Linked DNA regions of Homo sapiens. Each later gene encodes a partner of the first gene's protein in a complex. Each region holds a gene or a part of one and is shown on either strand. Other genes may lie near its edges. A codon is read from its position in the direction of its gene.

Evidence for each region.
Region 2: the proteins of CD69 (region 1) and S1PR1 are in contact, whole or in part, in a cryo-EM structure (PDB 8G94), measured with the Homo sapiens proteins. Residues at the interface, in NP_001772.1 of Homo sapiens: Val41 (codon at 4,622), Ala44 (codon at 4,613), Val45 (codon at 4,610), Val48 (codon at 4,601), Val49 (codon at 4,598), Thr52 (codon at 4,589), Ile53 (codon at 4,586), Ile56 (codon at 4,577), Ile59 (codon at 4,568), Ala60 (codon at 4,565), Val63 (codon at 4,556); in NP_001307659.1 of Homo sapiens: Asn157, Leu160, Phe161, Ile164, Ser165, Trp168, Val169, Leu172, Ile173, Gly176, Ile179, Met180, Gly181.

Annotation. Positions count from the first base shown.
Region 1 is NC_000012.12:9,751,742-9,757,938, forward strand, and holds the end of CD69 (early activation antigen CD69), read right to left. Parts: intron 4,679-6,197; coding exon 4,556-4,678; intron 3,521-4,555; coding exon 3,321-3,520; intron 2,950-3,320; coding exon 2,846-2,949; intron 1,849-2,845; coding exon 1,740-1,848; 3' UTR 745-1,739; downstream 1-744. UniProt on the Homo sapiens protein: Transmembrane protein expressed mainly on T-cells resident in mucosa that plays an essential role in immune cell homeostasis.
Region 2 is NC_000001.11:101,232,011-101,240,191, forward strand, and holds the start of S1PR1 (sphingosine 1-phosphate receptor 1), read left to right. Parts: upstream 1-5,008; 5' UTR 5,009-5,089; intron 5,090-6,811; 5' UTR 6,812-6,974; coding exon 6,975-8,123; 3' UTR 8,124-8,181.

The DNA.
Region 1 (6,197 bases):
AAGAAAAAAGGCTTAATTGGCTTACGGTTCTGCAGTTTTTACAAGCATAATGCTGACACTGCTCAGCTTCCGCGGAAGCTTAGGGAGCTTTTATGTATGTTGGAAGGTGAAGTGGAGTGGGAGCAGGCATGTCACATGGAGAAAGCAGGAAAGAGAGAGAGAAAGAGAGAGAGAGAGAGAGAAAGTGCTGCACACTTTGAAAAGACCAGATCTCCTGAGAACTCACTCAGGTGCAAGGAGACCATCAAGAGGATGATGCTAAACCATTCATGAGAGATTCGCTCCCATGATGTAATCACCTCCCACCAGGCCCCACCTCCAACAAAGGGGATTACAATGCGACATGAGATTTGGGCAGGGACACACATCCAAACTACATCATTGAGTTTTTTGCTGATTGAAATATCCCATGAAGATTATGCCTCTTTTCTATATATTGAATTATTTTACATAAATAACTAAAGTGTATGTAGCACCTCAGAATTGAACAAGATACTTTCAGAGCATTGACTATGAGGAGTAATTATTACAGAGCATCTGCTATATACAGAAAAATGGATATGGATACATACACCCTTTAGCATATAAGCATATGAAAACAATTTGATATGTATAAGCTATTATAAAACTAAGGGTTTTACTCTACATGGGATTTTTTCCTAAGTTATAGTAACTGTTTTCTGCTTTCTCATATAGTATATACTTTTTAATGTATTTTGAAGGAATGAACTTTCTTGGAAACCATTGTGTTTATTCTACTTTTATTTCACATATATAAAAACAGCTTATAATTGTACTGAACACAAAATACAAACAAATACATTTTATTGCACATAAAAATATTTTAAATGAAGTATTGAAGTATTGCACGTAATAGAATTGATTTAGGAAAGTCACAAACCTATTATAAGACTAGTATTATTCTAGGTCTGAAGATTACAGAATATTTCCTAATAGAGATTTGCCACATCACATATTGCACATTTTCCAACACTATTCTATGTCTTGCAAATATTCCTCATAGTCTTTGCTTATGTCTTTTCTCTGTAAGACACTGTATAAAAGATTATAAAGGCAAAGAAATATGTACCATCGAAAAGGACCTGTCTACAGCTGAGGAAGTAAAAAAATAAATACATGATCATCCCATTCTTTTTGGGGAAAAATAACAAAGTAAATTGGCAAATTTCTCTAAAAAGAGAGAAATATTACAAATCTTAGTTTCATAAGCATTTGTCCATTTATAAATGCTCCCTGAGTTTAAGGGATTCAATTAGACTAAAAACCTATGTTACCAGCCATAATTCCTTTGTTTACATTCAGTATCTAGTACCAACATCTAACTCCTTCCAATAGTGCAAATGCATGAAGGGCTCTCACTGTTGGTAGTCATTCAGCAATAAATAGTAAGTCCACGCCTAGTTATTTCATTATTTCTGGATTCAAAATAATATAAAGTGCATCCAAAGGTTGCATAGTCATTCTTCTCATTCTTGGGCATGGTTATTGGTCAACCTGTGATGCTTCTAGCTCATGGCAATAAAAGCCCACAGTGCAGATTTTCCTGGAATTTCTTCCTTTTTTTCCATAGTTCTGTTTGGAAGAAAATTCCCAAGACACTATAAAATTTTTTTTCACAAAGTCTCTATGGAAGACTTCGGACCACAGAGCAGCATCCACTGACACAGATTTCCTTGAGTTCCATTCTATAATAGTCAATAAGTGAACATGTTTCCTTATTATTTGTAAGGTTTGTTACATATCCAGTATAAATTCTTCTCACATTCCATGCTGCTGACCTCTGTGTTTTTCAGAAAAACACACTTGTCAGACCCTGTAACGTTGAACCTGTCAAACAATAAAAAAACTTAGAATTATTTTCAGCTCATTGTTTTCATTCAGTTACATGAGAATGAACTCGGAGATGGTGACCTCTGCTTCTTTTAAATTCTTAGTGGGATACACAAGTCAAATAATCATAGACTAATCTGTAGAGACAATGGACAAGAATTGAAAAAAAAATAGGATGTGGAGAAAAAATATGGAAGTAAGAGGAAAGCACGCCATTCATTTGGTTGGCATGGCACCAGATAAGTGATTCTTGGTCATTTCTGAGTTCATAGATTTTTCAATAAATAATTTCACAAAATTGTATGCATTCAACAGCCATGCATACTAGTGCATACAGCTTTAAGGGGTTTATGGCTCCTGAAGCCCATCTGTGGATATGGAGCCATAGGACAAATATTAGGAATCCCTTTTCTAGAAACCTGAATTTTAATCTCGATACTTTATCAGTATTATGATCAACAGCAAACTTATAAAATGATCTTCAAACATTAAATGTATTTTAACTAAAGGTAATGAAAATAGAGTATCTAATTCTGGGGCAAATTTTCTTTCAGGTGTATAGAAACTCATAATTAGGCATTGAAACTATTCTTTATTCTGTGGAGATGAAAACTGAGAAATAGTAAGAAGGATTTATTTTCCAGCAACTGTCTTATTAGTAAAGACTAAATGTGACATTGAAAATGGGTTTTTGTTGCATCATCATAATTATTATTGAAATATTTCCAAATTAACCAGATCTACTACTCACATTAGAGTTTGCTGAGAAAAATTACTATAAGCATTTATTTTATGTATTATAAGTGTGGATAAAGAAAAAGAATAATAATAAAGCCTGTTATTAAAGAATTCCAGAGTATACGCATTCAGAAGAGATTGTTAGAGCTCTTGAAGAGCTCAGCCTTTATATTTAAAGTGCTTTGAAAGGAGAAAAGGAAAGTGATTTTCCTGAGATGCCACCCTGGGGAATATAAAGAGACTTCTGGAGACTTACCAGTTGTTAAATTCTTTGCCATTTGACCACTTCCATGGGTGACCAGGTTCCTTTTTCAGTCCAACCCAGTGTTCCTCTCTACCTGCGTATCGTTTTAGAAAGTTCTTAAAGAAAGCACAAAGGAGTTTGTTACATTAAACACCCTTCTGGGGAAGTAGATAGTAAATCCTGTTTCTCAAAAGCTGCAACTTGAGGCATGACAGCTTATCTGACCATGTACTCATTCTATATAGGATCAGCATATTTGGATTTCTGGTCTTTGAAGCTAAGCAATCAAATCAAATTTAAAAGATTAAATTAAATCTCATTTTGACCTCAGGCTGATCATATGGTTCTCTGGGATGACATTTTCCTACATCTGAAATAGGTACAATGTTTGTTTGTTTGTTTGTTTTCTCCACTTAGAAACGGAAGGAAAGCACTGATTAGCCATATGAATTAAAATAGTAGTATTTTATCTTTTTTTTATTCTTACCATGTCCTTTTCAGAATCAATGACAGCAAGAGTAGCACCATGTTCAGAACAAGCATTTTGGGCTGAAGTCCAGCTCCTCTTCACAGTAGAAATAAAGTAGCATTTCCTCTGGTAGCCAACCCAGTCCTCAGAGCATGAAGAAACATGGCTGTCTGATGGCATTGAGAATGTGTATTGGCCTGGACAATTGTATTGGCCCACTGTGAACAGAAAAATGCTTTGTTTTAGTAACAAAAGAAACCAAATACCCACAGCATGCAAAACTAGCCTTAGGATGCTATGTTGTGCTAGGTGGTGATAAAGTAAAGGATAAAAGCTAAAAAGTAGAATTCTGAAAAGGGTATGAAGAAAGAAAGTTCTCAGGACCATATCTGATCTTCCATTGTGCCTAATCATCATTGGATGGAGATATGAGGATGAGGGGATGTACTTTTGGTCATAATGTCAGAAAATGACAGAAATATAGAACAATTCTGAAAATTTGGACTAGATATTTCTTTGGACTAGAAAGGATAAAGTGCATTATACATTTCAAATAAGGTTTTGAATCTGAATGCAGAGGCGGAAGAATTTGAAGATGCAGTATTTATAGCACTAGGCTGGAAAGATGGAGAGAGTAACTAACTTTTAGGGAACCAATTCAAAATACAGAAAGACATATGACTCAGAATATCTCAAAACAATGGTAAACATTCCCATTTGTAAAAGATACAAATATATCTTGGTACAGCTGGAGGTATTGAATACCAAATCACTACTGACTCTCTGGGAACTTTTAAATATAATCTTAATTATTCAGAACTACCATTCTGTGTCCTTTGAGATAAAACACAAAAGACTGGCCACTTCCTGATTAATCTATGGCTTTAGATACGATTTTTTTCCATAATCAATGAATGTGAAGTTCACATTTTTTTCTAGCTAAATAGGTATTTATTCAGAATTCAAATCAGCTCCCTTCATTCTAGATGTAAACATCTTTTCAAATGCAATTTTATTCTACAGTAATATATAAATCATAGATACTTTTAATACTTATAAAAGTATTACATTAATTATTCAAGGATTGTGGAATTATGTTTAGTATTGATTAGGAAATTGGCCATATATGGTACATGGGATGATTCTGAATTAGCTAGTTTCTGATTAACTAGACTAAACTAATATTGATTTCAGCTGGGCATGAATGCTTACAGCTAGGAGGCTTTGAAAGAATTGATGAAGTGTAGACCCACCTGATAAGGCAATGAGAGCTATGATTAAAATGGTGATGAAGACCACATTCATTACAGCACACAGGACAGGAACTTGGAAGGACCCTTCATGACGTGTTGAGAAATGGGGACTGGTGGCATCATCTGGAAGGGAGAAAGTTGATGATGAGTTCAGGCAGACTATAGAAGTACTATAGGAATATGCAACATTCTTTTGAGGCATTTAAACTTAATATTTCCTATCTCATTATATGAAATTTCCCCGTCTCTTTATAGAAATTTCTAAGTTAATTTACCCCCAATTTTGAGTGAATTTGAATAGTTTATTGTTGGCTTGAAATGAAACAATTCAAGCATAATGATGAGATTATAAAGTGTCTCCCCAAAATATTTACCTGACACATATGATTTATACACTTAGTAACTATGAAAATTCTAAGTATATAATCAGTTTGTTTTAATGATGATAAGAACGTTTATTAAATATGCACATGCCCCAGAAGACACATAAAAAAATTCTAGGGCATGGTGGCTCACACCTGTAATCTCAGCATTTTGGGAGGCCGAGGTGAGTGGATTGATCACCTGAGCTCAGGAGTTCAAGACCATCATGAGCAACATGGTGAAACCCTGTCTCCACCAAAAATACAAAAAATTAGCTGGTCATGGTGGCACGCACTTGTGTTCCCAGCTACTTGGGAGTCTGAAGTGGGAGGATCGCTTTAGCCTGGGAGGCAGAGGTTGCTGTGAGCGGAGATTGCACCACTGCACTCTAACCTGAGTGACAGAGTGAGACCTTGTCTAAAAAAATAAATAAATAAATAAATAAAAAATTCTAGCATAATTCCTTAATCTCCTTGTAGTTACTGTTTGAGAGAAATGATGTGAATGGGATAAATATGGATAATATCATAAAGTAAAATATTGAATTGCTATATAAATATCTGACATTAAAATGACTGAACAAAATTTTAAACGTGACAGTATTTTTTGGTGAAGTTGCTGCAGATGTGGAGCAACTGGAATTTTCAGATATTATTGGTGGGAGAGTAAATTGGAAAAACACTTTGGAAACTGTTTCTTATAAAATTAAATATATGCCTTTTCTATGGCCCAACAAACCTACTCCTATGTATATCCTCAAGAAAAATGAAAATATGTTCTCAAAATGCCTTGTGCAAGAATGCTCCTAGCAGCTTTATTCTTAAGAGCCAAATTCCAGAAATAATCCAAATATCCACCAACAGGAAAATAAGTGAACAAATTATGGTATATCCATACAAGGGAATTCCGCTCAGCAATTCAAAATAAGACAACTGATACATGCAACAAAATGAAGGAATCTCCAAAAAAAATGTTGAGTGAAAAAAAATCCAGCCACAGAAGATTGTATACTACATATTTGCATTTACATGACTTTAAATAATAGTTGGTCTAAGCTCTGGTGTCAAAAATCAGAACAGTAGTTGCCTTTGTGTGTGTAGGAAAGGTAATTTAACTGGAATGGGACACAGGGCAAACTGTCTAGGGTGATGGAAAGATTCAAATGTTGCTGGTCTTGTGGTTATACCACTGTCATAAGTCGTTAAACTGTATACCTACGAGCTGTGCATTCATCGTATGTGAACTAAACCTCAATTTAAAATGATATGTGAATGAACAG
Region 2 (8,181 bases), on another chromosome or scaffold:
GATACCATCTCATGCCAGTTAGAATGGTGATCATTAAAAAGTCAGGAAACAACAGATGCTGAAGAGGATGTGGAGAAATAGGAACGCTTTTACACTGTTGGTGGGAGTATAAATTAGTTCAACATTGTGGAAGACAGTGTGGCGATTCCTCAAGGATCTAGAACTAGAAATACCATTTGACCCAGCAATTCCCTTACTGGGTATATACCCAAAGGATTATAAATCATTCTACTATAAAGACACATGCACACATATGTTTATTGTGGCACTATTCACAATAGCAAAGACTTGGAACCAACCCAAATGTCCACCAATGATGGACTGGAAAAGGAAACTGTGGCACATATACACCATGGAATACTATGCAGGCATAATAAAGGATGAGTTCATGTCCTTTGCAGGGACATGGATGAAGCTGGAAATCATCATTCTCAGCAAACTAACACAACAACAGAAAACCAAACACTGCATGTTCTCACTCATAAGTGGGTATTGAACAATGAGAACACATGGACACAGGGAGGGGAACATCACACACTGGAGCCTGTTGGGGGTGGGGGGCTAGGGGAGAGATAGCATTAGGAGAAATACCTAATGTAGGTGACGGATTGACGGGTGCAGCAAACCACCATGGCACGTGTATACCTATGTAACAAACCTGCACATTCTGCACATGTGCCCCAGAACTTAAAGTAAAATAATAATAATAATAATAATAATAATAATAAAAGATGGAGGTGGTGGATGGGTGAAGCATTTTCTCTGTAGTGTAGGGAATTCTCACAGGTATGTAGCTCCTTAATCCTCACAATGAAAGAGGCAAATATCATTATTTCATTTTACAGATGAGGACACTGAGGTTCAAGGAAGTTAAAAGAACTTGCCTAAAGTCACATAGCTTAGAACTGGCAATATCAAGGCTGAACCTAAGTGTCTGTTCCAAGGCTCAGTCATGTTCCACTAATTTTGAATGTTGGCAAACGAGGAGAGAGAGATATTGGGACCTAGGATGAAGGGAAGAAAGAGTTTTTGGTAGAGAAAACACATAAACATTTATGTAAGTTGAAAGTAAAGAGTCCTCAGAAGCTAAGAACTGAAAGTACAAGGGAGAATAAGAATAATTGAGCCAAGTCTCAGAAAGTTTGGAGGAAGCAGCATGCTGACCTGGGCAAGAGTTTGCCTTGGAAAGGAGTAAAGTTGCTTTTATTTCTGAAACAGGTGGGAAGGAGGTAAGGGTGGGTAAAGTTGCTATTAAGCTGGAGCTTGGAGAGGAGGGAAATTGAGATGGTCATACTATTTCCTCCTTGAAATAAGAGGCTAGTTATTCTCCTGTGAATAGACAAGTAAGGGAAAGCCTGGATTTTTACCAGTGACTGGGTCAGGGGAGGGAAGAGGGGAGAAAAGGGAGTTGGAAAGTGACTGGAGCAATTAGGAAAGAGAGTAAGGCTCAGGCTTGTAATCCCAGCACTTTGAGAGTCCAAGGTGGGAGGACTGCTTGAGCGCAGGAGTTCAAGATCACCCTGGGCAACAAAGTGAGACTCCTGTCTATACAAAAAATAAAAATAATAATTATCAGGACATGGTGACTGGTGCCTGTAGTCCCAGCTGCTTGGGAGGCTGAAGTAGGCGGATCCTTTGAGGGCGGGAGATCAAGGCTGCAGTGAGCTATGATTTCGCCACTGCACTCCAGCCTGGATGACAGAGCAGAGCCAGACCCTGTCTCAGTTGAAAAAAAGAAAAAAAAAAAGGAAAGGGAAAAGAGTAGAGTTGCAATATTTAGCAGATAAAAAATATAGCTCATGGCTGGGCTCGGTGGCTCATGCTTGTAATCCCAGCACCTTGGGAGGCCAAGGCAGGTGGATCGCCTGAAGTCAGGAGTTCGAGACCAGCCTGGACAACATGGTGAAACCCCATCTCTACTAAAAATACAAAACTAGCTGGGTGTGGTGGTGCATGCCTGTAATCCCAGCTATTCAGGAGGCTGAGGTAGGAGAATTGCTTGAACCTGGGAGGCGGAGGTTGCGGTGAGCTGAGATCACGCCACTGGACTCCAGCCTGGGCAATAGAGTGAGATTCTGTCTCAAAAAAAAAAAAAAAAAAAAAAGATAGCTCACACAGTTACATTTGAATGGCACATTTATGACAAATTTTTGTTTAGTGTATGCTCCAAAGATTGTGTGGTATTTTATCTGTAAACTTTTAAAGAGAAACACTAAAGCATGTGTAAAGAACAACAAAGCCACTTTGAAATCAAAAATTGGAAATGGAGCAAACTTAAGGTAGGAATGTTGGGCTTGACTTCTAGGCAGCAGCAGACAGGGAGTTGTACTGGCAGTCAGGAGATAGCTTGAGAATGCAATTTTTAGGGCCTCCTTGGAGAGCAATGGGAAGAGACTTATATGGGAACTAGAGACTTGGAATTGGCCAGGACGCCATTGCTGGAAACATTTGCCTACTATCTAATTTTACCTAAGTTGATCATCTACAATTACATCTCATAGGTGTGTACTAAAGATGAATATTATTAAATAACAATCTGAAAGGTTTTTGGACTCTGTAAAACACTTTATCAATATTGAATGTTAAAAACCAGTGGTATTCACAAGAAAACAACTGATATCCCCAAGGAAATTCTTGAACCTGTTTGAGGTTTATCATGGTGGTCTGGAGTAGTGGTTAAGAGTCTGCAGCCTGTCCCACATTAAGCAAGCTGCTTAATATGTCTGGGAGTCAATTTCCTTGTTTGTAAAATTAGAATAATTATAGTGCCTAACTTGTCAGATTAAATGGATTAATATGTGTAACACTATGTGCAAATACTAAAAGTACAATGTTACATGAGATATCATAGGCAGACAATGAGAAGTTTCAGAAAACATTCATTAATATGCATATGTATACACTTTGTATGCTTACGTAGAAAATGAGTGGTTTTAAAAGGACATTCATTAGCATACTTTTATATGCATTTTGTAGACTTGTACAGTCAGAAATGCAGCAAATGTAAAACTTTAAATCTAGAAGTCTGTTTCCCTCTAGGAACATATATTTCAATTCCTTAACTATTTATTGACTGATAGCGTTTGAGCCACAAGGCAAGGCATTTGCAATATTTAGGTTTTGGAACCCAGCTCTGCCACTCACTAGCTGGGAAATCTACAAGTCACCTTAGTTGTCTGAATGACACTTCTCTCAACAATAAAATGGCCAGCAATGCTTACTTACTTCACAGAGCAGTAAGGTTAAATTAACCTAGCACATGCTTGATACAGACTAGGTGTGAAATTTCACTTTGATTCCTTTGGCTTTAAAGAATGCATAAATTAGTGTGGGTGGAGGCGGGAGAAGGGGGGGAATGCCAAGTCCCCCGTTTTGTTGTGCTGGGTAGACACAATATACCTCTTCCCCTTTAAGTGAAATAAGTCTTCAAATCCAATTAGGATCTACTCTGGAGTCTTAGAGGACCGTTATCTTGGTTTCCACATTATATGCACTGTACTGTTGTTGAAGCTGTGGGTATGTATTGGGTGCGTCGCTGTCGATGAATGCTTTAAAACAGCTGTGAATTAACTGTCACTTCTTTTTTTTTTTTTTTTGGCAAACTCACAAAATCCCAGAAGTCAGGGGTCTGTTGTTTGTTCATTCTGCCTCCTTCTGAGTCATTCAGGTACAGGGTGTGTCTGCCAATTGAAACTGCACAGCGGAGGAAGTTTTTGAGTTCACATCTGCCGGGATGGGAACGCAGTGCGACCAGGGACTGGGTGGAAACTTTTACAACAGTAATGCAAGGGCAGAAGCGTCCTGTCCTGAGCTTGTCACGCAGGCAGATCTGACCAAGTCCGCCTCTCAGCCTCACGTTCTTAAGTAGCATCTAAGCAAAAGAAAAGGGTGGGCAAAGTGCTAGTAATGAGATTTGAGGCCTCTGAGTCGACTCCCAAGCAGAATGTGAGAGAAGGGTGCCGGCTCCTGCTGGGCAGCTGCAGTTGCTCCGCAGCTCCTGGCCGAGAATCTCCCCCTTTGGAAATTCCTGAGCTGCCCAGGCGTTTTGAATCTCTCAGGACTCAGCAGCAGCCCACCCCCTCAACGACCTCTCCATTGGCCAGAATCTGGGACACACAGCCTGACTTTGTGCTCAGCTGAGGGAAACCCCTCGCCCAACACCAAAACCGGCGCTGGTTCATTTCTCTGTGCACTCTGGGAAAGCCACTGCCCCTCAGACCGCAGTTGCGAGTAGCACGAGGATCTGGGGTGGCGGGGGGAGTACAGGAACCTCCCGGTTCATTCTCCCTCCCGGGCTGCTTGTCTCCTCCGTACCTCTCGCAGCCCCTTCCCAGCCTCTCCTCCCCAGAGCGCCGCCGACACTCGCCGGGCCGCGGCTCAGGTTTTCTGCTGCTCGCGCGAAAGTGGCTCGGGGAGCTCCTGGCCACAAGCTCAGCACACCGATCCTCCTAGGGCTGCGGGGGGTGTGGGACCAGGGCGGTGCGCTACGAGACTCCGGGCCGTCCTCTGCCTCCTCAGACTTTTCGAGAGAAAAGTTTTCAAAGTCTCTCCACCTTTTTTTTTTTTCAGGGGCTCGGGAGAATCCTCTCCACAGCCAGGGATCAGCGTCTATCTGGGCGAGGGCAGTGATTTATACAGTAGAATCCAGGGGTTACCGGGCTCCGCCCCTTCTCTCTCTCTCTTTTTTTCTTTCATTTGTTGTTTGGGGAGGAGGGGTTCTTTTTTTTTTTTTTTTTTTTTTTTTTGCTTCTGCCCCAGATCTTTCCTGGACAGTGCGTCTCAGCAGTTCAGATCCGGGGGCCCCCAGCTGACAGAGGGCGTGGGGGGTTAAGGCATTAACCCCTCCCAGCCTCTTCCTGAAGAAACCACCCAGCCTTGGCGCGGCGCTGGGTGACTTCGCGTAGCAGGCAGGGAACTGGCCGCGGCGAGCGGGACTGGCCATTGGAGTGCTCCGCTGCGGAGGGAGGGGACCCCGACTCGAGTAAGTTTGCGAGAGCACTACGCAGTCAGTCGGGGGCAGCAGCAAGATGCGAAGCGAGCCGTACAGATCCCGGGCTCTCCGAACGCAACTTCGCCCTGCTTGAGCGAGGTAGGGGGCGGCGAATGGCGGGGGTCGCGGGCGCGGGGAGCCCGGTTGTGGTAGGGCTTAGGTGTCAGAAACGAATTTTTAAGTCGAACGAGGCAAACAAAAACTTAGAAAACATGCATCTCCGGGCGCTGAAAATTTGCATCTCTGGGCTACTAAGGAGCCCATCTCGATCAGATTGTTCTTGGGCACTTGTGATTTATGGAGTTCAGAAAAAAGGTTAATTCCCAACTGTGGAACCTACGGGTGTAGGGGCAGTGAAAATTGCAGTTGGTCGGAGGAATAGGAGGGAAGGCGTTAAATTTTGGAAATCCTATAGACAAAGAATATGGTGGGTGGTGTGGAGCGTGGGTAATGGCTTAAATTAGTACTGCCCAGGAGCAGGGTATAAAATTAGTTGGGGGAAAATGCGGAGCTTCTTGGCTTGAGCAGCCTCTGCTGTTCGCGGAGTTGCTGGGATTGTTCTCATCTCTATTACCTCATTTTATTGCATTGCTGCATTACCTTGAAATATTTAAGCAACTTAGAAGTAGACTTCTGCTGACCAGTGCCGTCTTAGAAAGTTTCTTTGTAACTTTCTAGTCCTAGGAGAGGAGTCAACGTGTTGGGGGACTGCAGTAAATAAAACTGCCCACGCAAATTTAGCAATGCACCAGGGAGCAGTTTAATGTGAGTTTCTGAAGAGTAGTTTTGCAATCGAAATTAGAAATGTGGTAGCATGTATTATGGCTGTCATGAGTAGTTTGATTTCTCTCTTTTGTGTATGTTTTGGCTAAACTAAACAAAGCAAAAAATATTTATGCAATCAACTAATGTACGAAACTTCTGGGATTTGCTGCAATCTGTTATGAATGGTTTTAACTGAATACCTTTAAATTTACTTGCCCTGGCTTGGGGTGGGGGGTGGGGTGGGGGGGCGCGGGGGGAGGCGGGGAGAATAAGAAGAAGAAAGAAAAGGCAGTCGCTTCACGGAGGCGCTAAGCTTTCCTGTTTACAGCAAGGCGGGGCGGGCCTGGCTGCCCACACCTCACTGCGCCCTCGGACCCTAAGCACACCTGCTCCTAGAGAGTTATTAATAGAGCCCCCAAATGGCTTACGCTTTCAAATGATTTTCCTGCAAATCTGATTTCTTGCATGGCACATGGCAATTAGGAGGTGGTGCTAGTATCTTTGAACTGGGGGGCTGGGGGTGGGCATGGGGGACAGAGGTGTGTGTCTTCGCCCTCAGACTGGCAGTTGAGTCTTTTCCGAGGAGAGACGTGGGCTGGTATTGAGCGTGCAGCTAAGCTGGTGACTGCTTCAGAGAATCTCATGGCTGGAAATCCGGGGGTGAGGGGGTGTGGGGTGGTGAGAGGGCAGGAGTGGAGTTAAAATGGGGTGTAGTTCTCTAGGTTTCCCATTCCTCCCACTCCTTGTTTTCCTTTTCATCATCTTTTTTTTTTTGTCAACCCACAGCCAACATCGTAATTCCCATTTCCCTTTGAGTGAATGTGGCCATAGAGTTTCTCCCTCTCTTTTTCTTCCCCCTCTTCCTTTTTTGAAAAAAGAAAAAAAAGGAAGAAAAAAGATAATTTGATTTTTAAAAAAAATCTCTCTCCCTGAGCTCTCCCCAAGTTTCTTTAAAACAAATCAACAACAACACAATTGGAGCAGTGCCTTAGCTAGAATGAATTATGCCAGTATGCTGTGGCTCTTTCCCTGACTCTCTCCTCTGACTTGTTTAAGGCTGCGGTTTCCGAGGCCCTCTCCAGCCAAGGAAAAGCTACACAAAAAGCCTGGATCACTCATCGAACCACCCCTGAAGCCAGTGAAGGCTCTCTCGCCTCGCCCTCTAGCGTTCGTCTGGAGTAGCGCCACCCCGGCTTCCTGGGGACACAGGGTTGGCACCATGGGGCCCACCAGCGTCCCGCTGGTCAAGGCCCACCGCAGCTCGGTCTCTGACTACGTCAACTATGATATCATCGTCCGGCATTACAACTACACGGGAAAGCTGAATATCAGCGCGGACAAGGAGAACAGCATTAAACTGACCTCGGTGGTGTTCATTCTCATCTGCTGCTTTATCATCCTGGAGAACATCTTTGTCTTGCTGACCATTTGGAAAACCAAGAAATTCCACCGACCCATGTACTATTTTATTGGCAATCTGGCCCTCTCAGACCTGTTGGCAGGAGTAGCCTACACAGCTAACCTGCTCTTGTCTGGGGCCACCACCTACAAGCTCACTCCCGCCCAGTGGTTTCTGCGGGAAGGGAGTATGTTTGTGGCCCTGTCAGCCTCCGTGTTCAGTCTCCTCGCCATCGCCATTGAGCGCTATATCACAATGCTGAAAATGAAACTCCACAACGGGAGCAATAACTTCCGCCTCTTCCTGCTAATCAGCGCCTGCTGGGTCATCTCCCTCATCCTGGGTGGCCTGCCTATCATGGGCTGGAACTGCATCAGTGCGCTGTCCAGCTGCTCCACCGTGCTGCCGCTCTACCACAAGCACTATATCCTCTTCTGCACCACGGTCTTCACTCTGCTTCTGCTCTCCATCGTCATTCTGTACTGCAGAATCTACTCCTTGGTCAGGACTCGGAGCCGCCGCCTGACGTTCCGCAAGAACATTTCCAAGGCCAGCCGCAGCTCTGAGAAGTCGCTGGCGCTGCTCAAGACCGTAATTATCGTCCTGAGCGTCTTCATCGCCTGCTGGGCACCGCTCTTCATCCTGCTCCTGCTGGATGTGGGCTGCAAGGTGAAGACCTGTGACATCCTCTTCAGAGCGGAGTACTTCCTGGTGTTAGCTGTGCTCAACTCCGGCACCAACCCCATCATTTACACTCTGACCAACAAGGAGATGCGTCGGGCCTTCATCCGGATCATGTCCTGCTGCAAGTGCCCGAGCGGAGACTCTGCTGGCAAATTCAAGCGACCCATCATCGCCGGCATGGAATTCAGCCGCAGCAAATCGGACAATTCCTCCCACCCCCAGAAAGACGAAGGGGACAACCCAGAGACCATTATGTCTTCTGGAAACGTCAACTCTTCTTCCTAGAACTGGAAGCTGTCCACCCACCGGAAGCGCTCTTTACTTGGTCGCTGGCCACCCCAGT